2 separate regions of the Homo sapiens genome follow, and region 2 is linked to region 1. Evidence: fine-mapped expression QTL. A gene starts in region 1. The other region holds a variant in brackets. All regions are shown on one strand. Distances are from middle to middle. Region 1 holds the start of INSYN1-AS1 (INSYN1 antisense RNA 1). Region 2 has its middle 13 kb from the start of INSYN1-AS1.

The links. PIP is the estimated chance that this variant, and not a neighbour inherited with it, causes the effect.
Region 2: its variant is the best candidate, but not a certain one, in a credible set for the expression of INSYN1-AS1 in esophagus mucosa (GTEx, PIP 0.86).

The regions. Positions count from the first base shown.
Region 1 is chr15:73,765,073-73,770,443 of GRCh38, forward strand. INSYN1-AS1 (INSYN1 antisense RNA 1) reads left to right here and starts at 3,014. Exons shown (of 3, transcript NR_120353.1): 1 at 3,014-3,114; 2 at 3,681-3,788; 3 at 4,398-4,730.
Region 2 is chr15:73,778,448-73,783,818 of GRCh38, forward strand. No RefSeq gene overlaps it. Among named protein-coding and RNA genes, the nearest start is that of INSYN1-AS1, 13 kb to the left of the region's middle. The variant G/A (reference allele first, on the strand shown) is at 2,859.

The DNA.
Region 1 (5,371 bases):
GGGGTCTATGGGAGAGGACATAGGCCACATTTTGTAACCCAGATTCTTCACTTCCCTCTGACTTTATGATGTATTCCCCATTTGTGGTCCCTGATATTTACTATTTTTCTTTTCTGTCTCTTTTAGAAAATTAGAAGATACAAATAAAACTAACAAATATATAAGTCATCCCTAATTTTTTTTCCACCAGAAAGAACCACTTTGGGGTGGATCAGACCTGAAACTTGGCCCCTTTTCCAATTCTCACAGAAAAATCCTTCATTCAGAAACTCTGAGCATTCAGTAGACTTGACTGAAAATTTGATATGGGGGAAAAGAAGAAATGGTTCATACTGTAGCCACACAAACAACTTTAATTATTTATTTATATTTTTTGTAGAGACGGGGGTCTCATTATGTTTCCCAGGCTAGTCTTGAACTCTTTGTCTAAAGCAATCCTCCCTCCTCGGCCTCCCAAAGTGGTGAGATTACAGGCGTGAGCTCTGGGGCCCGGCCACAAAAGCAACTTTGGAGAAAGAGCAATGATCTGGGAAATTAAAAGGCCTTCCCCCACTCCCCACCTCACTAGGCATTTTTCTTGGCATCTGCACCATCTCCTCCATGCTAACTTCTTTGGCTCTCCCTTCTCCTCTGATCATCTCACCTTTCTCTGCCATCTTCCTCAGGAGCAAAAGGAATTCCTCTCCTTGTCTCATGCTGAGTGGTTTGCAATCACTGTATGTCTAGATAGTTTACCAAAGTTTTTTTTTTTTCCCAAAGACAGTTTTCCATCTAAGAAGAATTTTGATGCCAGGTGTGAAAATATTTTCATCTTGTTTCGTGAAGACATTACACTTTTAGAACTAGAGGATAATTTTATAAATGCTGATATGAAACCTGCTTTTGCTTATAACAATATAGAGTCAGCATATTTTTATGTCAATAGGCAAATCTATATTTTCTGTTTTAATGGCTGCATATTAATCCATATAGTTTCTTTAAACAATCTCTTTTTTTGCTATACATTTAGGCTGTTTCCAATGATTGTTATTATAACATCCACACATCATCTTTGCAAATTTATCTAATTATTGCCTTATGATAACTTCTTAGAAGTAAGATTTCTGAGAATGCACTTTTCAAAGATTTTTCTTGTATTGTTCAGCTACTCTTCAGGAAGTTCGTGCCAGTTTATACTCTCATCAGTTGTTTAATATTATTGTCCCACTTACTATGAATGCTCTAGCTCTATCTCAGCTGTGCCTTGAGGTGTTAAAGAAAGAGCTCCTAGGGCCAGTTTGGTGGCAACAGTAGCCAATTAGTGTGAGATTATCCAAAGGATACAGAATCCCAGGGAGCAAGAATGGGGGCCGTGAGGTCCAGCTGTTTCACTCTATGTAGGTTCTTTTATGGCCTCTCTTGAAGGATTTGAAATTGATTGCTTGATTGATTTTATGAAGGAACACATTATTTCCCTCCAAATGATGGTGGTGGCGATGAGTGCATGGTCATGATGATACCAATGTGTGGTCATGACAGTGTGATATTGATGAGGGTATGGACAATGGTAGTAACAGGTTAACAGTGGTTCTGACGGTGAGTGCAGTGCCAATGATGGAGATGGTGGTGGTGCTGGTGTTGACAATAGGATGGCAGTTATGGTGGTGGTAGTGGTGACAATGTTGGTGATGATGACTTATGATGGTGGTAAGAATGGTGATGGTAACTGTGGTGGTAATAGTGAGTTCAGCACTGATAAGGGAGATGGTGGTGGTGGTACTGACAGTAGGGTGGTAGGAATGGTGGTTGTGGTCACAGCTATGTTGTGATGGTGGTTAAGAAGGTGGTGAGAATGGTGTTGACAGTTGGTGATGGTAGAAATGGTGGTGTGGCATTGACTGTGGGATGGTGGTGACAATGGTGAGAAGATGTGACAGTGGTGAGGGGCAGCGTGATAGAAGGGGGATGGTGGTGGTTCACGATAGTGGTGAGTGGAGTTGGTGCTGATGGGAAGCCTGGTGCTGATGGTAGTGCTGGGGTGTTGTGGAAACAGAAAGGTGAAAGTGCATAGATGATGGTGAAGGAATGCAATACAGGATTAAAATAGATACAAAGGGAGAGAGAGGTTGTCTTAGGAATGTGAATAAAGGAAGCAGCATATTCTAGACCTAGAACAGTGAGGAGACCCACTGGCCAGAGGGGATGGTGGGGGAGACGTGCAGCAGGAGTGGGTGCTGGGAAGAGTCCTGGAAGTAGTGAGAAGAATGTGGACTCCAGGAGGGCAGCACGGGGAGGCATTCTGGGTCCTGGGAGGGATAGGTCAGAGCCGATTGGCCTGCTAGAGAAGAAAAGTGGATGAGGAGCCAGCTGTTGGCCCTCATGCTGGCCTCAAATGGAGGCAGAAGGTAGGCTAGGCCCTCTCCAGTGCAGGCAAGTGTCCCAGGCATGCTGGCAGCATGGAGGAAGCGGGTGTGAAGGGCCTTCAGTAGCTGAGCCAACCTTAGAATGCATGGGCATGGGGAGAGGTAAAATACCCTGTGCTCTTGTACCAGCTGTACCTGGCAGCTCCTACTCTCACCTTTGCTTGAGAGGGAGAAGGGTCTGAAGCAGGGACCCAGAGCTCCAGCTCCCTTCTCTCCCCCGGCTCCCTGCCTCTCAACAGCTCCCTGAATCTCCAGTAGGCAGTTTTTGTTCACTAGAATTGCCTGGATTCAGAGCTCCTTCCCCACCTTTCCAGGTATAGCATGAAGCTGTTTGGTGTGTATACAAAGCTGCAGGATTCACTCTTCCGGGGCACAGATGCCTGAGAAACTTCAGAGAGGCAGAAGGCGTGAGTCTGAGCAGCCATCATCTGGGCATCAAGGGGTTAACCCATCCCTGAGGGCTGGGCCAGGTCTTTTCCTCGGACTGGGCCCCGCCCTCCGGTTCCTCCATAGAAGCCACTGGAGTCAACTAGGAGCTCACTTTGTGGGAGGGAGAAACGTTTTTTTCTCTTATTTGAATGGTGCTGGTGACCTCACAAGGTTTCCATGGTGACAAGACCAAGGGAGCCAGGGGGCCTTGGTGAATTAGGCCAAACAAACCCACCTCCAAGAGTCTTCTCCCAGACTCCAGCCTTGAGGATGAGGACTCCAGGTAATCAGTGAGCTTGCTGAAGAGGGAAGGTTGGGGGCTGGGGACATGCCAGGCCAGGACCTGCAACAGAAACCGCCGCCCCACCTTTCCTTTCTGTGCCCCACCCCATCCTGCCTAAAAAGTTGCTTTCCATGAGGGCTTGGTGCTGAGTGTGGCCCCCACAGGGATGTCTGTGTGGTCACAGAGTACCTGTGGGAGGGCAATTCTGACCCCAAGGTAGGAAGCAGTGATCCGGTAATTCCAGGCACCAAGGCAGATAAAAAGACCAAGGTAGGTGAACAGCAGAGTAGAGGCCTGGGTGTGAAAGGAGAAAGCCATGAGCATCTGGTTGGGAGTGGGAGCCCTGCTCTCTGAAGCTTGACTTTCTCAGGAGCAGCTGGGGGCTGGAGCTTGGGAACACAGGATCATGGGATCCAAGTGACCAGGGTTTGAAACCAGGCATAAATAATGCCTGCACTCTATGGTTGTGGCCTACATGGGACATCACAGGGAAAGCACCGAGTAGGTGCTCAATATGTGTTTGTTTCCTCCCTCCTTCCCTTCCTCTCCTCTCCACCACTCAACAGCCACAGCCTCCTCAAGAAGTTTGAAGTCTGCATTGAACTCATTAATTTCCAGCTTTTGGCCGGGCGTGGTGGCTCATGACTATAATTCCAGCACTTTAGGAGGCCAAGGTGGGCGGATCACCTGAGGTCAGGAGTTTGTGACCAGCCTCACCTACATGGTAAAGCCTCGTCTCTATAAAAATACAAAAATTAGGCGGGCATGGTGGTGGCCACCTGTTATCCCAGATTCTTGGGAGGCTGAGGCATGAGAATTGCTTGAACTTGGGAGGTGGATGTTGCAGTGAGTGGAGAACATGCCACTGTGCTCCAGCCAGGGCAACAGAGCGAGACTCCGTCTCAAAAAGAAAAAAAAATTCCAGCTTTCAATTATTTGATCCTCACATAATTCAATGTCTAAAATATTGTACTCCTACATATTGTCCTAAAATTCTACCATGGAAGCTCCAACCATTGCTTTGCATGAAATCTCCTTGTAAATGGCAACATCTTATCTGGAAGTAATTGTCTTTTCCCTGGACAGGGGCAGTTGTATGAGTGGGTGGGGAGCAAATGGGGTGGGGTGGGGTGGGAGGGTAGACGGGGGGAATGAGTGATGTCTTGTTTGTTTGATTTTTGTTTTTTCTTTTTCTTTTTCTTTCTTCTCTTCTCTTCTCTCCTTTCCTCTTCTCTCCTCTCCTCTCCTCCTCTCTTCTCTTCTTCTCTTTTCTTCTCATGCAGATGGGGCCCATGAGTGAGGAGGACAAGAGAGAAAGGAGAAGTTTGGGTGTAAATCCCAGAGATTGTTCATCATGTGAGAGGAGCCGTGCATGCATTTCATGCCATACTCACACCATGGATGGAGAAAAAAAATCAAGCTTCACTTTCTGAGAATGGCCCTGGGGGCACTGCATCTAGTGCCTGTGCATCTGCAGACCTGCCGGATGCCTCCAGGGGAATCATGCCACCCCAAGCAAGAAAGGGCCCAGTTGCCAGGAGCCTGGAGGCAGAGAGCTGAGGAGCCAGCCCCTGACATCAGAATGGAGCTCAAAGGTTGGCTGGGTGTGACTCTGCCGTGGACAGCTTCTCTTGGGAAATCTACTTTAATGAATCCAGGGGACCAATTTGTAATCAGCCCATCAGATGTTCAGCGACACTTAGCTGGAATCTCGTTGCTGGACTCTGTGCCCCGCAGTGGATGACAGTTCTCCATCAGGGTCTGCAGTCCTCTACCCTGGACTTGCTGCATCCTGGAGCCCCCAGCAGTCAGGTACCGGCTCTCAGAACTGCCTGCATCCCATTGGCCTGAGCTGCTGTCTGCCAGGGCTGCTGGTAACCAGGCCCACAGGGTTGGATATTCCCCCAACAGGGCAGCTCCCAGTCCAAGCCCAACTGTTACCAGCCCAGAAAGATGTTTCAGGATACCCCTTTCCTCCCCACTTCCCTGCCCTCTGCAGCTCCAGCTGGTGCACCCCATCTTTCTCTCCCCCTCCCTGCTAGGCTGGGCCCTAACAGGAGACCTTTGAGGTGGTTGGGCTTGTTCTGCAACCTTGAGTACCCTTGAGCTACTGCCTCACTCCTCAGTTTTCTTCTTCTTAAGGTTTCTAATTGGACTTTGCCAGTGTATTTATTTCAAAACTGGTCATCTTACTGACCTCGCTCATAGTCTCTTATTACTTTTCTAGTTGATTCTCTTGAGTTTTCTGGATAAACAA
Region 2 (5,371 bases), 13 kb after region 1:
AAAGAAAGAAAGAAAGAAAGAAAGAAAGAAGGAAAGAAAGAAAAAGAAAGAGAGAGAGAAAGGAACCCTTAAATCTAGATAGCCTCAGCCCAAGGTCAGAGAGCTTTGTTGCCACGGATTGGTTGGTTAGTAACTTGCTTTATGTTGAAGACAGGCCTGGCTTTGACTTTATACAGTTACTTGCAGATTCTTTGAACCTCAGTTTTCCTACCTGTAAAATGGGATTGATATAGCTACTTTGAAGAGTGTTCGTGAGGATTCAGCAAGATCAAGTTTGCTAAGTGGCCATCACCGGACAGGGGCTGTTTTCAACATCATTCCCCAACCCTCTTTTCTGTTCCCTTTGTCTAAGGAATGCCATTCTAGACTCAGCATGGTGCAGATGAGACATAGGCTTTGGCCTGAATTGGGGCTTGGCCACGTCAATTATTGGCATCTAACATTGAGGACATATTAGATGTCAGGAATCATGCTAAGGGCCATACATACAACTCCCTTAATCCAAATCTTGCTGCCTACCTCAGAGGTGGGCACCACCTATTATTATCCCCACTTTACAGATGTGGGAATTGAGATATCAACATCACCCTGGCCTCATAAAATGACTTAGGAAGAATTTCCTCTTTTTCTGTTATCTGGAGGAGTTTGCATAATAAGGTTTGTTTATTTACACTTAAATATTCACAAGAATTCACCAGGAGAATCATCTGGGCCTGGAGTTTTCTCTGTGAAAAGAGTTTTGACTATAAATTCAATTTCTTTAGGAGTTCTAGAAGCAGTCCTGTTCCTCTGCCCATGCCTCCTCCTTAATCCTCAGCTCCCAAATCTGAGTCCTGGAGGAGGTGATTATAATTGCAGGCCCTGCAAGGTACCCCCAGTTTTATTTACCCCCCATGTGGACACTCTGGCCTTGACTCTCCTCCTTATTGAATGGCAGGGCAGAGTGGGGTGGGGGAGGAGGCAGAATGCCAAGAATGAGATCCGACTTTGCTATCTTGGCTCCAAGCTTGCACCTCTCCCTGCTCTGGTAAGCTGTAAGGAGCAAGGCCTGTGGCTGGAGGACCCATCCCTGAGGCCAACCTTCTGGGACTGTTCCTGAGGATCCACTATGCAAGGTGCACTGGGCCCTGTGACAGCTTAGCAGAGCAGAGCTGCTCCACCTGGCATTGGGATCTCTAGGAGAAGCTCGGTAAACCTAGAATGAATGAATGAGCAAGTTAACAATGACTTCCTGAATGACTGGAACACCTGCTCTAGGTACCCAGCTTAGAAAGGTTAAAAAGACACTTCATCTGGTGCAAGGCAGACACATGGACACATGGTCCATGACATCTTTGGTGACAAATGCTGTGCTACGGGTGGCATAGGGTACTGTAGGGGTACAAGGGAAAATGTCTGACCCATCCTGGGGGTGGGTGATGGGGGTGGCAGGGGCTTTTTGGAAGAGGGGACACAGGCTGAGTCTTGAAAGACACTAGGAGTTAGTCAGGAGGCTGGTGGAACTGGGAGAGAGCATGGGGTAAGAAAAGCAGGGCACTTCCACAGAAGGGGAAGACACTGCATGGTCCCTGAGCTCGGTCTATTAGAGAAGCTACTGGTCACTCAAAAGTCAGCCTCATTTCCAGGCCATTTATTGCTCCAAAGGATCCTGGACTCACAGTGCATTGGAAGCTCAGTGTTCTGACCTTTCCTGCCAATATCAAGGTCAGGGGAAAGAGATCCCTTTCTACCCGAGCTCAGCATTTCTAACTGGAGGAGGGTGATAAAACAATTAAGGATGCATCTGACAGTGAGTAAGAGAGAACCTAATAAATAGTGTCCTAACTGTTTATTAGGGTGCAGTGGGGGTGAGGAGGGTATTTATTCCATATAAAAAGAAATTCAGGGATGGGCAGTCTGGGGCCACCAGGCCGTCAAGGCTCCAGGCTCCTCTCATTGTCCCTTCCACCAACCTTAGTGTGAAAGCCTTTGTCTTCATGCTTGTTGCCTCATAATTGCAAGATGGCTGCAGCAACTCCACACCTAGATCCAACTTCCAGGCAGAAAGAAGATGGAAAGGCTGAGGGGAATGCCAGTTCTGTACCTTCTAGAAAGAATGTCCTGAAGCCCTACCCGGTGACTTCACTCCTATCTCATTGACCAGAAGTGGGTCCCGTGGCCATCTCTAGGCCAGTCACTGGAAGGTGGCTGGGGAAAAAGGGGTGTGGAGAGGCTTGGGCCAACCAGCCAGGAGCATCTGCTACAGGTGGTCACCCACCCCAGAAAGCACAGCCCTCAGCCCCCTAGCTGTGAGAGCCAGCAGAGGCAGGGGGGAAGCTGGCCACTCCAGAAAGGTCTCGCTTCAACAGTCATTCAACAAATGCTAACCATTGCCCCCACTGTGCCCAGCAACTTGGGCCCTGGAGCCCAGTAGAGGAAGTGAGCTTTCAACACAAGGCCAGGCAGAAAGGAGAGCCAGACCCCAAAGCAGAGAGCCCCTCTCTGGGTGGGAGCATCAGAGGGTCCCAAGCCTGCCAAGGCCTTTCCTTGCCTTTGAAGAAAAGGAGATTAAATAGGACCAGCCTCAAAACCCCAGCAGAAAGGACCTGGCCTCTTTATCTGACTGACTGATGAAGTGGCTTCCTCTGGGGGTTGAAGGAAGGTATGCAGATAAGTGTGAGTAGTAGTTACGCCACGATCATTCAGGAAGAATTGGGGTGGTGTGGGGGCGGGGAGAGGTCACTGCTGTGCCATCAATGTCAGCCTCACACAGTGTTGCAGAGCCCAGGCTCATCCCCTACTCCTCCCATTTCACTGATGTAATCTGACATAGCCTTCCCCCTTGGAGGCCTGAGCCCAGGAAGTTACCTTATGTTACC[G/A]CCCAGCAAGGTCGCTCAGGCCTTCTTGAGCTTGCCCCGTGATTCTGCCAACCAATTTCAGACAGAGCAGATCACTCTGGGTCTAGTAGGAAATGCCCAGGTCTGGGCATCAGAAGGCCTGTGTGACCTTGGACCAGTCAGCCAACCTCTCTGAGCCTTTACTGACACCTTGTGGCAGCTTCTGCCCAAAACCAAAGTGCTTGGGTGAAAATAAAAACCTGTATTTCCCTTCCACTACTCCCCTGCCACTATGCTCTGGTCTGAGTCACATCACTGCAGAAGGATAGCCTTCCAACACACCTCCCCATCCCACCTCTCTAGGCCACTGTCCTGAAAGAATCAGTGAAAAGGCTTCCCAGGGAAGCAGTTACGGCTCAGTCCTCCAGTCTCCAGTTGCAGGTCTCAGAACTCAGTCCTGCACAGTACTAGTACTTTCATCAGCTCCAGGATGAGGATATGGTGGACACGTGCTTATCACATGATGTCAGAAAATCTCCAGAGGCCAGGCATTGGTGGCTTATGCCTGTAAGCTTTGGGAGGCCAAGGTGGGAGGAGTGCTTGAGGCCAGGAGTTCAAGACCAGCCTTGAACAACATGGTGAGATGAGACCCCATCTCTACAAAAAATTTAAAAATTAGCTAGGCATAGTGGCACATGCCTGTAGTCCTAGTTACTTGGGAGAATCGCCTGAGCCCCAGAGGTTGAGTCTGCAGTGAGCTGTGAACATGCCACTGCACTTCAGCCTGGGTGACAGAGCGAGACCCCGTCTCAAAAAAAAAAAAAAAAAAAAAGAAAGAAAGAAAAGAAAATCTTCAGAAGGGAAAAGTAAGTCCACAGCCTCTCCTAGATTACTGCTTGGTCATGTGTTTGTGTGTGTGTGTCTGTGCACATGTGCGCTCACATCTGTGTACACAAACACCTGTGTGTGTTTTGTCATGGACCTGGGGAACTTCCTACCAGGCTCCTGCAATGGAATGGTTTCAACCGAAGCTCTAGCTGGGACAGGGCCCCTCGTTTTTGGCTTTTGAGATGAACGCCCCAACCTAGTTAGTTATCAGTGCTCGGTTTTCTTGGCTTCCTTTCCTGCCCCATCTATATCCTCTGTCTTCCAATCCCACCATCCAAACCTGCTCCAAACCAGAGGTTTAAATGAATCTAATAAAACCACTCCTAGAGGCAGCTGTTCATGGCTAATAAGGGTGCCCAGAGTGGATGGATAGGTTGGGAAGGGCCTTCCAGGCCTAGCGCCAAACATTATTGGTAGAATTTCAAACCAGGTCTCTGTGGCTAAAACTTTGTCTCTTCCAGGCTACTGGTCTGACCCACTGGCACAGGGAAGCAGTTTTGGGTATGAGGGAAAAGCTGTCCTGAGCTCTCCACACCTCCACCCAGCCATCTGGGAATTCTGGGGTAGGGTATGATCTGTGGATGTGGCTTGGGGACTTGGCGTGGACCTGCAGTGGTTGGCTGGCTCCACTCCATCAAGAAGATTAAGAGGTAATTGAGCAGCTGTTCTGGATGAGGGAGTTGCTGCTTGAAAGTTGGAGGTTGGCCTGAAACCCTCCCATTAAATGTGCTTGTCCCTGGGATTCAAGAGCTCTCTTCAAAAGGCAGGGAGCCCATCCAGGCCCTCCTATGGCTGGAAGAAACCAGTAGCAACCCAGAGCATATGGGGAAACTGAGGATCAGAGAGGAGTAGCTGACTCCCATTTTACCAGGTTGAGTGTCATGGCAGCCTGCTGCCTGAGGTTGGGTGGTATGGCCAAAGGTGGTTCTGGGCCAGAATCCTTCCTGCTGGGCTCCAGGAACCTCCTCTCCTGTTGGTTAAGAGCCAGGAGTGCAGGCTTTTGGAGCCAGGGGCTAGACCACCCTCCTGGCACTGCTATATTCCAGCTCCTTCTCCCCACCCTACAACACTGTCCCTAACGCATTTTTCCATTACTTTTGTGCTCTGAAACATTCGATGGCTCCCTATCACCTCCAGGATCTGCTGCAACATTCCCTGCTGGCCCCTCCCCGCATCACCAGCCTCACTCTGTCTGGACTGCCTGCTACTCTTAGCACCCACCTGCCCTCTGCCCTCTCCTCCATCTCCACTGTGGCCTTCCTGCCATCTTCCCATCCCTTAAAAGCCATTTCTCCAGGAAGCCTTCCTGTCTCCACTCCGTAATTGGGGCAAGCTACTTAACCTTTCCAAGCTTCAGATGGCACCTCTGGGAAAAAATGAGGGAATAACAAGATGCTGCCTCCAAAGGGTTGTCGTGAGGCTGTCACCAATGAAATAATGCATACCCAGGGCACATCACAGTACCTCTTGTACAATGAGGACTCCAACAAAGGATGCTGGGTCAATTTCATCATCATCATTGATATGTTATGGCTATCTCATCGTGAATTGTAGGTCCCATAATCCCCATGTGTCATGGGAAGGACCAGGTGGAGATAATTGAATCGTGGGGCACAGTTTCCCCCATCCTGTTCTCATGATAGTGAGTTAGTTCTCATAAGATCTGA